2 linked regions of the Homo sapiens genome follow. The protein of the gene in region 1 purifies or fractionates together with the protein of each later gene. This does not show direct contact. Each region holds a gene or a part of one and is shown on either strand. Other genes may lie near its edges.

The links.
Region 2: the proteins of MYO1F (region 1) and OSTF1 purify together in Homo sapiens (affinity purification with mass spectrometry; 2 studies listed by BioGRID and IntAct, with this or other methods). This does not show direct contact.

The regions. Positions count from the first base shown.
Region 1 is NC_000019.10:8,546,420-8,553,445, reverse strand, and holds part of MYO1F (unconventional myosin-If), read left to right. Parts: intron 1-8; coding exon 9-96; intron 97-217; coding exon 218-307; intron 308-1,281; coding exon 1,282-1,413; intron 1,414-1,571; coding exon 1,572-1,706; intron 1,707-2,751; coding exon 2,752-2,884; coding exon of another isoform or gene 2,885-2,890; intron 2,891-3,089; coding exon 3,090-3,286; intron 3,287-5,128; coding exon 5,129-5,209; intron 5,210-5,323; coding exon 5,324-5,410; intron 5,411-6,120; exon of another isoform or gene 6,121-7,026. UniProt on the Homo sapiens protein: Myosins are actin-based motor molecules with ATPase activity. Unconventional myosins serve in intracellular movements. Their highly divergent tails are presumed to bind to membranous compartments, which would be moved relative to actin filaments.
Region 2 is NC_000009.12:75,133,492-75,140,517, reverse strand, and holds part of OSTF1 (osteoclast-stimulating factor 1), read right to left. Parts: intron 6,173-7,026; coding exon 6,123-6,172; intron 2,981-6,122; coding exon 2,902-2,980; intron 1-2,901.

The DNA.
Region 1 (7,026 bases):
ATCCCCAGTGGAGAGAGTGGAGCTGGGAAGACAGTGGCAGCCAAATATATCATGGGCTACATCTCCAAGGTGTCTGGCGGAGGCGAGAAGGTCCAGGTGAGACGAGGAAAACAGAAGGATAAGCTGGGTCGCCCTCACCTGCATGGTAGTGCAGCCCCACCCATCTGCACTCCTGCCTCAGTCTGACTTCTTCCCACTCCACCTGCCTCTGCCCCAGCACGTCAAAGATATCATCCTGCAGTCCAACCCGCTGCTCGAGGCCTTCGGCAACGCCAAGACTGTGCGCAACAACAATTCCAGCCGCTTTGTAAGTCTCTGCAGACCTGCTTGGAGCAGCTGCTCCCTCCGTGCTGACCTTTCTACACACACACCCACACATACACACACCCGTATTGCCAAGACAAGAGTCCATTGAAAACCCAGCAGGAAATACCTACTCCTGAAGGGGAGACTCACTTCCTGCTCATGGTCCCTTTCAAAAGAGAGTCCCCCATTGGCAGAACTGTGGAGGCCATGACACCCCTGTGTAACATTCTTAAATGCTCCCCCGGCTGCAGCCATGCTACATTGTTCCCATTCACATTTCAGGTCCAATTTATTCCCTCATCCATTCCTTCTTTCGACAATAGTTCTGGGACTCGTTCTTTGTGTGGGTGCTGCGCTGGGCCCAGTGAAAGTCAGGATAGGTAAACAGATATGGATTCAGGGTTTGATTCTATCACTGTGAGCTGTGTAGCCTGGGGGGGAAAAAAATCTATGCAACTTCCTGAGTTTCCTCTGTTTGCTCATCCATAAAATGGTGACGATGTTAATATCCATCTCATAGACTTCAGTATTACACCTGCACATGGACATGGTTTAATAAATTCCATACCCTTGGGCTGGGTGTGGGGGCTCACATCTGAAATCCCAGCACTTTGGGAGGCTGAGACAGGCGGATCACTTGAGGTCTGGAGTTCAAGACCAGCCTGGCCAACATGATGAAAAATACAAAAATTAGCTCTGCCAAAAATACAAAAATTAGCTGGGCATGGTGGCGGGTGCCTGTAGTCCCAGCTACTCAGGAGGCTAAGGCAGGAGAATCACTTGAACCCAGGAGGTGGACGTTGCAGTGAGCCGACATTGCGCCACTGAATCCCAGCCTGAGCAACAGAGTCAGATTCTGTCTCAAAAAAAAAAGGAAGAAGGGAAGAGAGGCAAGGCTCATAAGACCCATCCCCAACCCTTCCCCCACCTGCACCCCAGGACACTGGGGTGCTGACATGGTTCTCTCGGATTCAGGGCAAGTACTTTGAGATCCAGTTCAGCCGAGGTGGGGAGCCAGATGGGGGCAAGATCTCCAACTTCTTGCTGGAGAAGTCCCGCGTGGTCATGCAAAATGAAAATGAGAGGAACTTCCACATCTACTACCAGGTGCAGGGAAGGGGCCGGGGGAGAGGGAGCACCACCTGGAGCCCAGCGGGGTGGACAATGGGAAGGTAAACACCTAGGGGGGCATGGCAGGGCAGATGAGGGATCACAGGGGCTGAGCCAGGCAAGCACCAGATGCATGAACATGGCACACCCTCCAGCTGCTGGAAGGGGCCTCCCAGGAGCAAAGGCAGAACCTGGGCCTCATGACACCGGACTACTATTACTACCTCAACCAATCGGACACCTACCAGGTGGACGGCACGGACGACAGAAGCGACTTTGGTGAGACTCTGGTGAGCACCGGCCTCTACTCCAGTCCCCGGCCAGGCAGACCTCAGCCCCAGAAACCCTCCTGAGTTACAAATTAGGAAACCGAAGCCCAGGCCAGGCATGTGGCTCAAGCCTGTAATCCCAGCACTTTGGGAGGCCGAGGCAGGTAGATCACTTAAGGTCAGGAGTTTAAGACCGGCCTGGCCAACGTGGTTAAACCCCGTCTCTACTTAAAATACAAAAATTAGCCAGATGTGGTGGCGTGTGACTGTAATCCCAGCTACTGGGGAGGCAGAGGCAGGAAAATTGCTTGAAAACGGGAGGTGGAAGTTGCAGTGAGCCGAGATCACACTACTGCACTCCAGCCTGGGCAACAGAGTGAGACTACATCTCAAAAAAAAAAAAAAAAAAGGCCAGGCACGGTGGCTCACACCTGTAATCCCAGCACTTTGGGAGGCCGAGGCAGGTAGATCACCTGAGGTCAGGAGTTCAAGACCAGCCTGGCCAACATAGTGAAACCCCATCTTTATTAAGAATACAAAGATTAGCCGGGTATGATGCCATGCGCCTGTAGTCCCAGCTACTAGGGAGGCTGAGGCAGGAGAATCGCTTAAACCCGGGAGGTGGAGGTTGCAGTGAGCCAAGATAGCGCCGCTGCACTCCCGCCTGGGTGAAAGAGTGAGACTCTAAAAAAAAAAAAATAGGAAACCAAAGCCCAGTCCGGACACGACGCTCACGCCTGTAATCCCAGCTACTCGGGAGGCGGAGGCAGGAAAATCGCTTGAACCTGGGATGAGGAGGTTGCAGTGAGCCAAGATCATACCACTGCACTCCAGCCTGGGCAACAGAGGGAGACTCTGTCTCAAAAATAAAAAATATAATAAAAAACAAAGCCCAGAGAGGTGCAGGCACTTACCCAAGGTCACGCGGCAAGTGACTGAAAGGGGTAGGACAGGGACCCAAGGGTGCTCACTCCCTGAGTCCGTGCTGTGGTCCCTCAAGCCTGCCCCTGGAGGCAGGTTGGAGGCCAGGATTCACGGCACAGTTTCTGCCCCCGTTGTACCACAGAGTGCTATGCAGGTTATTGGGATCCCGCCCAGCATCCAGCAGCTGGTCCTGCAGCTCGTGGCGGGGATCTTGCACCTGGGGAACATCAGTTTCTGTGAAGACGGGAATTACGCCCGAGTGGAGAGTGTGGACCGTGAGTGTGGGTATCAGGGAGGGCTGGATGGAGGCCTGTGGGTGGGTGAACTGCGTCCTCCTAGCTCAGCCCCCAGGAAGCTGAAAGCCCACGAGGAAAAAAATGTGGGTGTCACTGGGCAAGATGGGGATAATAGGAGGCCCATGCAGGAGGCACAAGAGCCCAACCAACTGTCCCATTTTTGCCCTGACCTTTGCCCTGGTAGTCCTGGCCTTTCCCGCCTACCTGCTGGGCATTGACAGCGGGCGACTGCAGGAGAAGCTGACCAGCCGCAAGATGGACAGCCGCTGGGGCGGGCGCAGCGAGTCCATCAATGTGACCCTCAACGTGGAGCAGGCAGCCTACACCCGTGATGCCCTGGCCAAGGGGCTCTATGCCCGCCTCTTCGACTTCCTCGTGGAGGCGAGTGGGGCTGGGGCTGGAAGGCAGAGTGGATGCTCTGGGGTCACAAACATTTATGGAAGCTGAGTGCAGTGGCTCACGGCTGCAATCCCAATGCTTTGGGTGGCTGAGTTGGGAGCATTCTTTGAGGCCAGAAGTTCAAGACCAGCCTGGGCAACATAGCAAGACCCCCATCTCTACAGAAATTTCAAATTAGTTGGGTGTAGTGGTGTGCATGTGTAGTTCTGGCTACTCAGAGGGCTGAGGTTGGGGGATCATTTGAACCCAGGAGGTTGGGGCTGCAGTGAGCTATGATTGCGCTATTGTACTCCAGCCTGGGTGACAGAGCAAGACCCTGTCTCTAAAAAAAACTTTTGGCCAGATGCAGTGGCTCATGCCTGTAATCCCAGCACTTTGGGAGGCTGAGGTGGATGGATCACTTGAGGTCTGGAGTTTGAGACCAGCCTGGCCAACATGGTGAAACCCCCTCTCTACTAAAAATTACCCGGGAGTGGTGGCACATGCCTTTAATCCCAGCTACTTGGGAGGCTGAGGGAGGAGAATCACTTGAACCTGGGAGGTGGAGGTTGCAGTGAGCTGAGATCGTGCTATTGTATTCCAGCCTGGGCAACAGAGAGAGACTCTGTCTCAAAATAAATAAATAAATAAAATAAAAACTTTTTTAATGTATGGAGTCAGCCTGGGCAACATGGCAAAACCCTGTCTCTACAAAAATACAAAAATTAGCCGGGCATGGTGGCTGGTGCCTGTAATCCCGGCTACTCAGGAGGCTGAGGTGGAAGAATCCCTGACCCCAGGAGGTTGAGGCTGTAGTGAGCCATGATCAAGCCACTACACTCCAGCCTGGACAACAGACTGAGACCCTGTCTCAAAATAAAAAATAAAAATAAATAAAGTATAAAATGTATGGCCAGGTGCAGTGGCTCATGCCTGTAATCCCAGCACTTTGGGAGGTCAAAGCGGGCAGATCACCCAAGGTCAGGAGTTCAAGATCAGCCCTGGCCAGCATGGCAAAACCCCGTCTCTACTAAAAATACAAGAATTAGCCGGGCGTGGTGGCGCATGCCTGTAATCCCAGCTACTTGGGAGGCTGAGGCAGAAGAATCTCTTGAATCCTGGAGGCAGAGGTTTCAGTGAGCCGAGATTGCGCCACTGGCATTCCAGCCTGGGCAACAGAATGAGACTCCATCTCAAAAAAAATAGAAAAGAAAAAGCCCCATAAGGTAGTTGCTATTATCAACCCCTTTTAAAGATAAGAAAATAGAGGTGCAAGGCCGGGCGCAGTGGCTCACACCTGTAATCCCGGCACTTTGGGAGGCCGAGGCGGGCGGATCACGAGGTCAGGAGATCGAGACCACAGTGAAACCCCGTCTCTACTAAAAATACAAAAAATTAGCCGGGCGTGGTGGCAGGCCCTTGTAGTTCCAGCTACTTGGGAGGCTGAGGCAGGAGAATGGTGTGAACCCTGGAGGCGGAGCTTGCAGTGAGCCGAGATCATGCCACTGCACTCCAGCCTGGGCGACAGAGTGAGACTCCGTCTCAAAAAAAAAAAAGAAAAAAAAAAAAAGAAAATAGAGGTGCAGAGAGGTTCAGGGGCAGAGTCAGCTCTGGAGTCAGGGACCCTGATACACTGACACTTGGGTTTCTCCTCTGAGTGACTGATTATGGGGTGGGGAGACTGTACACAGAGCCAGGAAGGGCAGAGCTAAAGAGGGCTGGAGGGAAACTGGCATGAGGGGACATCACCCATGAAGTTGGCTAGGCGTGTGTCTAAGGAGTGGTGGGCAGGGGCTTCAGATCTGACCGATGCCCACTGACTTCCTGTCCCCACCCACACCGCAGGCCATCAACCGTGCTATGCAGAAACCCCAGGAAGAGTACAGCATCGGTGTGCTGGACATTTACGGCTTCGAGATCTTCCAGGTACGGCCCCCTGCCTCCAGCCCACATCCTGTCCTCCCTGGGGCAGCCCAGGGTGGCCACAAGAACTTCCAGCACCAGGACATTGAGGGAAGGACCCTTTTCCTCCTTCTGCAGAAAAATGGCTTCGAGCAGTTTTGCATCAACTTCGTCAATGAGAAGCTGCAGCAAATCTTTATCGAACTTACCCTGAAGGCCGAGCAGGTGGGCGGCCAAGCAGTCAGGGATGGGGGATCCTGGGGTGGGGGTGGGGTGGAAGGACCATGAGGATCCCTTAGCAACTAGGGGACACCCCAGCCCTCCCCACCGCGTTCCCACCTCTCTGTGCCAACCTACCCAGGCTCCATAGTGATACTTCCTTCTGCCTCTAAAGCTTTGGGAAGGACCGTGCCTCTTAGTTCATTCATTCAGCAATTATTTATTGAGCACCTGTTGTGTGCCAGGTACTGTTTAGGGTGCTTGGAGACACAGCCATGAACAATAAGGCAATAGTCCCTGCTGTCTTCATTTTGCCCCTCCCCCAGAAGCAGAGCCTGAGGCAAGGATTCAGAGACAAATGGTTTTTCTGGGAGGCAATCCCAGGAAGCTCCAAGAGGAGACTGAGGAAGTAAGTCAGGGATTTTTTTTTTTTTTTTTGAGACAAAGTCTCGTTCTGTCACCCAGGCTGGAGTGCAGTGGCATGATCTCGGCTCACTGCAACCTCCGCCTCCAGAGTTCAAGTGATTCTCCTGCCTCAGCCTCCCGAGCAGCTGGGACTACAGGCACCCACCACCATGCCCAGCTAATTTTTGTATTTTTAGTAGAGACAGGGTTTCATCATATTGGCCAGACTGGTCTCAAACTCCTGACCTCGTGATCCACCCACCTCAGCCTCCCAAAGTGCTGGGATTACAGATGGGAGCCACCATTCCCCGCTTTTTTTTTTTTTTTTTTTTTTTTGAGACAGGAACTCGCTCTGTTGTCCAGGCTGGAGTGCAGTGGTGTGATCACAGGTCACTGCAGTCTACACCTCCTGGGCTCAAGCAATCCTCCCACTTCAGCCTCTCAAGTAGCTGGGACCGCAGGCACACACCATCATGCCTGGCTAATATTTTAAAACTTTTTTGTAGAGTTGGTGTTTCACTTTGTTGCCCAGATTGGTCTTGAACTCCTGGCCTCAAGCAATCCTCCTGCCTTGGCCTGCCAAAGTGCTGGGACTACAGGCATGAGTTAATATGCCCAGTCCTGAGACAGGGATTTTTTTAACAAAGAGAGAGAGAGAGGCTGGGTGCAGTGGCTCACGCCTGTAATCCCAGCACTTTGGGAGGCTGAGGTGGGTGGATCACCTGAGGTCAGGAGTTTGAGACCAGCCTGGCCAACATGGTGAAACCCCATCTCTACTAAAAATATAAAACTTAGCCAGGTGTGGTGCTGGGCACCTGTAATCCCAGCTACTCAGGAGTCTGAGGCAGGAGAATTGCTTGAACCCAGGAGGCAGAGCTTGTAGTGAGTCGAGATTGTGCCATTGCACTCCAGCCTGGGCAACAGCAGAATGAGACCCTGTCTCAAAAAAGAAAAGAAAAAAAGAGAGAGACAGACCGAGCCAGACACAATCACTCACACCTATAGTCCCAGCTATCTAGGAGGCTAAGTTAAGAGGATCGCTTGAGCCTGGGGGTTCAAAGCCAGCCTGGACAACATAGTGAGACCTCATCTCTACAAAAAACATAAAAATTAGCCAGGCATGGTGGTGTGCTCCTACGGTCCCAGCTACTCGGAAGGCTGAGATGAGAGGATCACTTGAACCCTGGAGGTCAAGGTTGCAGTGAGCTAGGATCGCA
Region 2 (7,026 bases), on another chromosome or scaffold:
TGCTCAAGAGGGTCTTTAGAAAAGACCAAGTGGATAGTGCTTGAGGGGATTAATATTTTATATCTGTAAGTCTGCTCTCATGCAAATTAACAGAATAGCAACACGTAAAACCAAGAGGCAATTCATTATTCCCATAAGCCATCTTCTACCCACTTTTCCTTTGCCTTTATTGTGTTCAAAATTACATCAGAATTCATGAATACATTTGCATTGTTAAGGATTCAAAAATACAAATGTATGCTGAACAAAAGCACAAGTCCCATTTCATTCCTTCATCTTCTACCTACGCCTAAGGTAACCATTCTTAACAAGTGGGTGTGAGTTCTTATCTCCCTTATTTGCATCAGTGCATTCATACACATATTGATATAGACACAAAATCGTACTACACGTATTGGTCTGTGATTTCATGTTTTTAAAACTTTAATGTCTAATGGTACTGTTTTCTTAGCAAATACACATATTTGTAACTCAACCATTTAAGTATTCCATTTTGTGGTGCTCCAAAATTTAATTACTCCTGTATTGACGGGCACTTAGGCTACTCCTAATTTTCATTATCACAAATACTCCAGTGAACATCCTTGAACAACATCTTTGTTCACACGTATTTCTGAAGAATGGTTTACTAAAAATGGTATTGGAAAGTCAGGCTAAGTCCATTTTAAATTCTGACAGCTACTGTCAGATTGCTTTTCATACTAGTCTCTAATGATCCTCTGAATTTCTGTGGTATCAGTTGTAATACCTCCTTTTTCATCTCTGATTTTAAGATTGCTTTCCAAGAAGGCTTTAGGCCAAGCACGGTGGCTCACGCCTGTAATCCTGGCACTTTAGGAGGCCAAGGCGGGCAGATCATTTGAGGTCAGGAGTTCAAGACCAGCCTGACCAACATGGCCCATCTCTACTAAAAATACAAAAATTAGCCAAGTGTGGTGGCGCATGCCTGTAATCCCAGCTACTTGGGAGACTGAGGCATGAGAATCACTTGAATCCAGGAGGCGGAGACTGCAATGAGCCAAGATTGCGCCACTGCACTCCAACCTGGGCAATAGAGCCAGACAGTCTCAAAGAAAACCAAAAAAACAAAAAAAGAAGGCTTTGTCAGTTCATACTTTCTGCCACAGTGTAGGAAAGTATCATATTTTTTTTGCAACCACTTCCCCTTCAATAAACAAAAATAGGCCAGCACAGTAGCTCATCCGCCTGTAATCCCAGCACTTTGGGAGGCTGAGGCAGGCGGATCGCTTGTGTTCAGGAGTTTAAGACCAGACTGGGTAACATGGCGAAACTCCATCTCTACAAAAATTAGCCATGTGTGGTGGTGCACGTTTGTAATTTCAGCTATTCAGGAGGCTGAGGTGGGAGAATCACTTGAGCCCTGGAGGCGGAGGTTGCAATGAGCCGAGATCATGCCACTGCATTCCAGCCTGGGCAATAGAGACCCAGTTTCAAAAAAAAAAGAAAGAAAGAAAGAAAGAAAGAAAGAAGTGTCCCCAAATTTAAAGGCAAAGAAATATTGCATCAAGAAAAAAAATAGTATGTTTAATTAGTAATATAATGATCTTGTGTCAAAATCTTTCTCCTAAGCAGATCATTCTATTCACAGTAGGGTTATATAAAACCTCATTCTCTCAGTGTGCTACAGATCAAAAACTCCTGAGGGTTAACAGTTCTGTGACTAATCATATACTATATTATACTTTAGAGCTCATAGACATGATTTCTATCAGAACAGGAAATATTCAGAGACAGTGATGATAAAGAAGAAACACAACTATTTCCTGGGTCCCTTTAGATGAGCACTAATAGGAATATAATGTGATCCACATATATAATTTTTAATTTTCTAACAGCCACATTTGCAAAATGTGAAATTATTTTTAATTATATATTTTATTTAACCCAGCATATCTGAAATATTATCATTTCAACACATAACCAACATGAAAATTACTGTGATGTTTTACTTTTTGTTTCACTAAGTCTTTGAAATCTGGTATGCATTTTACACTTACAGCACATCTCAATTCAGATAGCCCCATTTAAAGGGCTCAGTTGTGCACGTGGCTAGTGGCTGCCATATTAGGCATCAAAGTCATCAGTATACCCTTTACAGGGCACTAGAGTGATCCTCATAATGTCTGGCCTTTTAGACCTGCAGCTTACATCACCAGCATACTTAAAATCTAAACCATTTCCTATCATATATCCCACAATATTGCTCTGAGGATCCCTAATGAGGGTAATTCCATGACAAGTGTCTTGGGGACTCAAGCATCCTACATGATAGGCTTCTGGACTAGAGTATGGTATAGGTGATCTGCCTGGCCTTCTCTAAGAGTAAACTAATATTTGTGGGACAAAAGGATAAAGGGATAGTCAGTTTATAAATTCACTGTTTCCTCTGACTTATAAAAACAGGGGATCAAGATATCCTCTCTCGTTCACTTTACATCTAGCACCTGCTCAGCTCAAAGCAGGACATTGCAGCCGCATCATTCTTGCTTATCTGTCAAGACTTCCCTGTGAGAACAGGGGCCTCAGCAACTTTACCTATACAGCTTTCTCAGACAGGATCTCCCCAACACACGTGTACACATACATTCTTTGTTTCTAAGGCTCTATAATCCTGCAGAAACATACAATACAGTTCTTACTAAAAGTAATATATGTAATGTTAAAGCTTGCCATGGTTTTAGTTTATATTAAAAACTAACACAAACCAACCCCCAATAATTTTATTTTATCATAACTATTCCATGATACACAGGCAGAGCAAAGGTTAAACCCTATTTTGAAATAAGACTATTATTCTTCCTACCATTTCAAATGGCGTAAGTTGATATAGACTATTTTTCAGGGCAAGCAAAGACCAGATAAACTCAGCACAAACTTTACCTTTTGCCAGAAGCAACTGGACGATATCTGCATAACCCTTCCAGGCAGCAGCATGCAAAGCTGTATCTCCCAACTTGTTCTATAGTGATAAAAAGAGAAAGTACCATTTTTAAGATAGAGGGTGGATTGAAAGTACATGTTAATTCAGGTTTAACCCAGTTAAACCTAAAAGTTAAACCTAAAATGGGAACAAAGTTATAGAACCACATAAAATTCCAAAGAGAAAAGGAAAGGAGACTCAAGAGATGGGAGAGGAGTCATTTTTGGGAGATGGAATAGGATGGAGGAGTACAAGCTGACTTGGTGGAGCACGAGCTGAAAAGCACATGCCTGCGGAGGGAGATCCAGGAGGAAGGAAGCAGATTTGAACATGCAGAAGCCTGGCAAAAATTAGGAATTGGAGATTCCTGGAGGTGCTAGGGCAGGCATGAGGCATGGGTGGGAAAACAGAGATATTGGTTTAAAGTACTCATAAAAAGTAGAATCTCAGAACCTCTTCCCCTTCTCTTGCTGCCAGATGACCCAATAATGATGACAGATTTACTTGTTGAGAAATTAACCTGATAGTTTCCAAGTTCATGAACACTAGGTACAAGAGAAGTAGCAAAAGGCCAGAAACTCAAACCTGAGGGTTAGGTAAAAAACCTACAGACTGAACAGTAAGACCCCTCTCTCAGGTACCTTTACGTACCCCACTGCCCAGTGTGCACATACCCCCAGGCAGGAGACTGGAGGGCACTTCTCTGGTGAAGCAGTGCAGCCCCATGTGCAGGGAAGGGAAGGAGTGTCACTTTCATTAGCATTTGGGTGTCACCTAGCAAAATAGCCAGGACCTCACCACATCACCCTATGGAGAAGCCCAACCGCCAGCAGGCCTCACCAAGCACACACAGCTTCCAATCACACCTAAAAATGAATGGATAAGGGCCAGGCATGGTGGCTCACACCTGTAATCTCAGCACTTTGGGAGACCGAGGAGAGCGGATCACCTGAAGTCAGGAGTTCGAGACCAGCCTGGCTAACGTGGTGAAACCCCGTCTCTACTAAAAACACAAAAATAAGCCAGGCCAGTGGCATGGGCCTGTAGTCCCAGCTACTTGGGAGGCTGAGGCAGGAGAATAGCTTGAACCCGGGAGGCAGAGGTTGCAGTGAGCTGAGATTGCGCCACTACGCCCCAGCCTGGACAACAGAGCGAGACTCCATCTCAAATTAAAAAAATAATAATGAATGGATAATGACACCAAGTGTTCGTGGAAAGCCTACAATATTTTAGTAAAGACCAAAACAAACAAAATAAATGGATCTCAAAGGGAAAAAACACAGTACAGTGAAGAGCCAAAAAACATAGTTTGAAAAGTTATAAATATTATATCAGCAAGATATAAGATCATATTGTGTCATGAAACAAGAAAAAGATACTACGTAAAAGTAACAATCAGAGTAAAATAAGGGCTTATAACAGAATTCTAAGAATGGCCCCCAAGGTTCCTGGCCCTGGTACAGGCCCCCTCCTCTTGACTGCAAGTGAAAGCAGTGAATGTAACAGGCTATCACTCCCATAATTAGGTTTCTAGTCAGCGGATGTTGAATTCTTCAAAAGGGACATTATCCCAGGTGGGCCTGACCTAACCAGGTGGGCCCCTAAAAAATAAAAACAATGAAACAGCAGAGAGACAATCTCCTTCTGGCCTTGAGGAAGAAAGCAAACAGCCATACTGTGAGCTGTCTACAGAGAGGGGTGGCCTCTAAAAGCTGAGGGCCTCAGTAATACTACAGTTAGAAGAAAATCAATTCTTCCTACAACCTAAATGCACTTGGAAGAAGACCCCAAGCTCCAGATGAGAATCCAGCTCCAGCCAATCCCTTGATTTCCACCTGGGAGACCCTGAGCAGAGAACGCAGCTATGCCATGCCCAGAATTCTGACGTACAGAAAGTATAAGCTGCTAAGCCTGTGGTCGTTTGCTAGGCAGCAATAGAAAACTAATACAGAACTCTGGGGAATTAAAAAGATAACCAAAATAAAACAAAGGTGAGAATATCTCTGGGAAAAATTAAGAAAACTGAAGGTTCAATCCAAGAAGTCCAACATCCTACTAATGGGCATTCCAGAACCAAAAGAACAAAGAAGGGTCAGATAAAAATTCTAAAAGAAATACAAGATAATTTTCCAGGCTGAAAGAGTTCATCATAATCATTGGGAAGAGATGAATGCTAGCACATCATCATAAAATTTGAAAACACCAACAATAAAGTAAATACTCTTAGCAAGAGAAAAAGCAGATCATACATAAAAGAATGGGAATCAAAATGGCACCAAATCTCTCAAAAGCAACCCTGGAAACAAGAATGCCACAGAGCCATGCCTTCAAAATTCTAAGGGAAACTGTTTTTGACCTAGAATTCTGATCAGCCATATAATCAATCCCAAGCTTCTCTTTCTCAGGAATCTACTTGAAGATGTTCTCTGACAAAAGAAAGACAAGGGATCCAGAAAAATGAAGATGCAACATGGCAGAGAACGGAAGGGGTTCCCTGGAGGACAGCAAAGGGCCACAGGGACCAAGCTGCTCAGACTGGAGAATGATGGAGAGCTTCAGGAAGTAATGAATCCAGGGAGAAAAAAGAAAGCTGTTGATTATCTTACACATTTTGGAAAAGTATTATATATCAAGACTGTATAAAACAGTAGAGAAGTCACAGTGAGATAACAAAAAATGAGTTTTAAAAAGTAAGTACAGAAACAAAAAAAGGTTATATAAGCAGTGAACACTATTTAGACACCCATAATAAAGTAAATATTATATAGTAATATAACCAAAAACTGTGATGAAGTACACTGAGGAGCAGAGGAGAACAGGCTTGGTGCTGGGGTGCTGAAAGATGAGAGCTGGGGCAGCTGACAAGCTTAACCCTTCACATACCCAACAGGAGGCCAAAGTACACATGAAGACAATGCATGGCGAGATAGCTCCGTCAGCCTATTCCTTAGTAACACAAAGGTAAGTACAGGAAGAAAGAGCTAAAAGCTGAAAGTGACATATGAGGAGGAGTGGGTTTGGCACTTGGGGCTGTGGATAATTTGAATTTTAGTACAATTATAATTTTTAAATTATGTGCTTGTGGGATTTTGACTACAATACTTCACATGCCCATGAGTTGCTCTGTACTAAAGACAACAAGCAGGTATGTGTTAAATAATTTTCAAATAAGCAGTCTTACCTGCTGGTTCAGTTCAATATTTGGTTGAGTAAATAGCATTTCCACTATATCTGAAATTCAAAGAGAAAAGATACCTTTTAAGAACGAAAATTAGAAGCCTGACAAATCTAGGTACAATAATTTTATAAAAGAGAGATTCTTCAGAAGAACCTTCAAGAAAATGTTAACACATTTTGTAAAATTTATAAAATAGAAAAACTTAAGAATCTAAAAAGTGGAATTATTTAGGAAAATATACTTTTTCTAATAGTTTTGGCTTTTGCATTTTCATATGACACTTAGAGGAATATTTTTACATTCACTATAATACTTTTCATTCATATAACTAACATGTTTATTAGCTGAAATAAGATAGGCTTCTTTTTAGTAGACAGTTACAAATTTTCCTTTGGCACTGCTATTTAATTTGTTGAGATCTTCATTTCTTATTGTTGTTGAGTTTATTTCTTTTGTTATAGAGAGAGGTAGAAAAGCGGTGGGTGATAAATTTTTGTCCAGGAAGAAATACATCTAAAAATTCAATTTGTCATTATTATTGATTACAACAGAAAAAGTATCAATGGAATCACTAACTTTGGCAAATGTTGGCTTTCTCTTGAATCTAATAGTTTGCATTAAACTTAAAATGCAAATCATAAAAGAAGACCTTGTGAAAAGCTAAGCTAGAGGAGCAAATTCTGATCTTTCCTTCTGTAAGATTAGACAGTGGTTTTGTTTTTATATTACTGCTGTTTTCCAGTAACCTTTCTAAGCCTGAGAGAGGAAAGGAAGTGTCCAGTCTTTCAAGCGAGAGGGACCCATGCAGTGAGGCTGACTGACCACATTCTACCCACTGTTCTACAGAGCTTCCAGGAACAAGGGTTTTGGCCGGTATTCTAAAGGATTCAAAAAGAATAGCCAATGC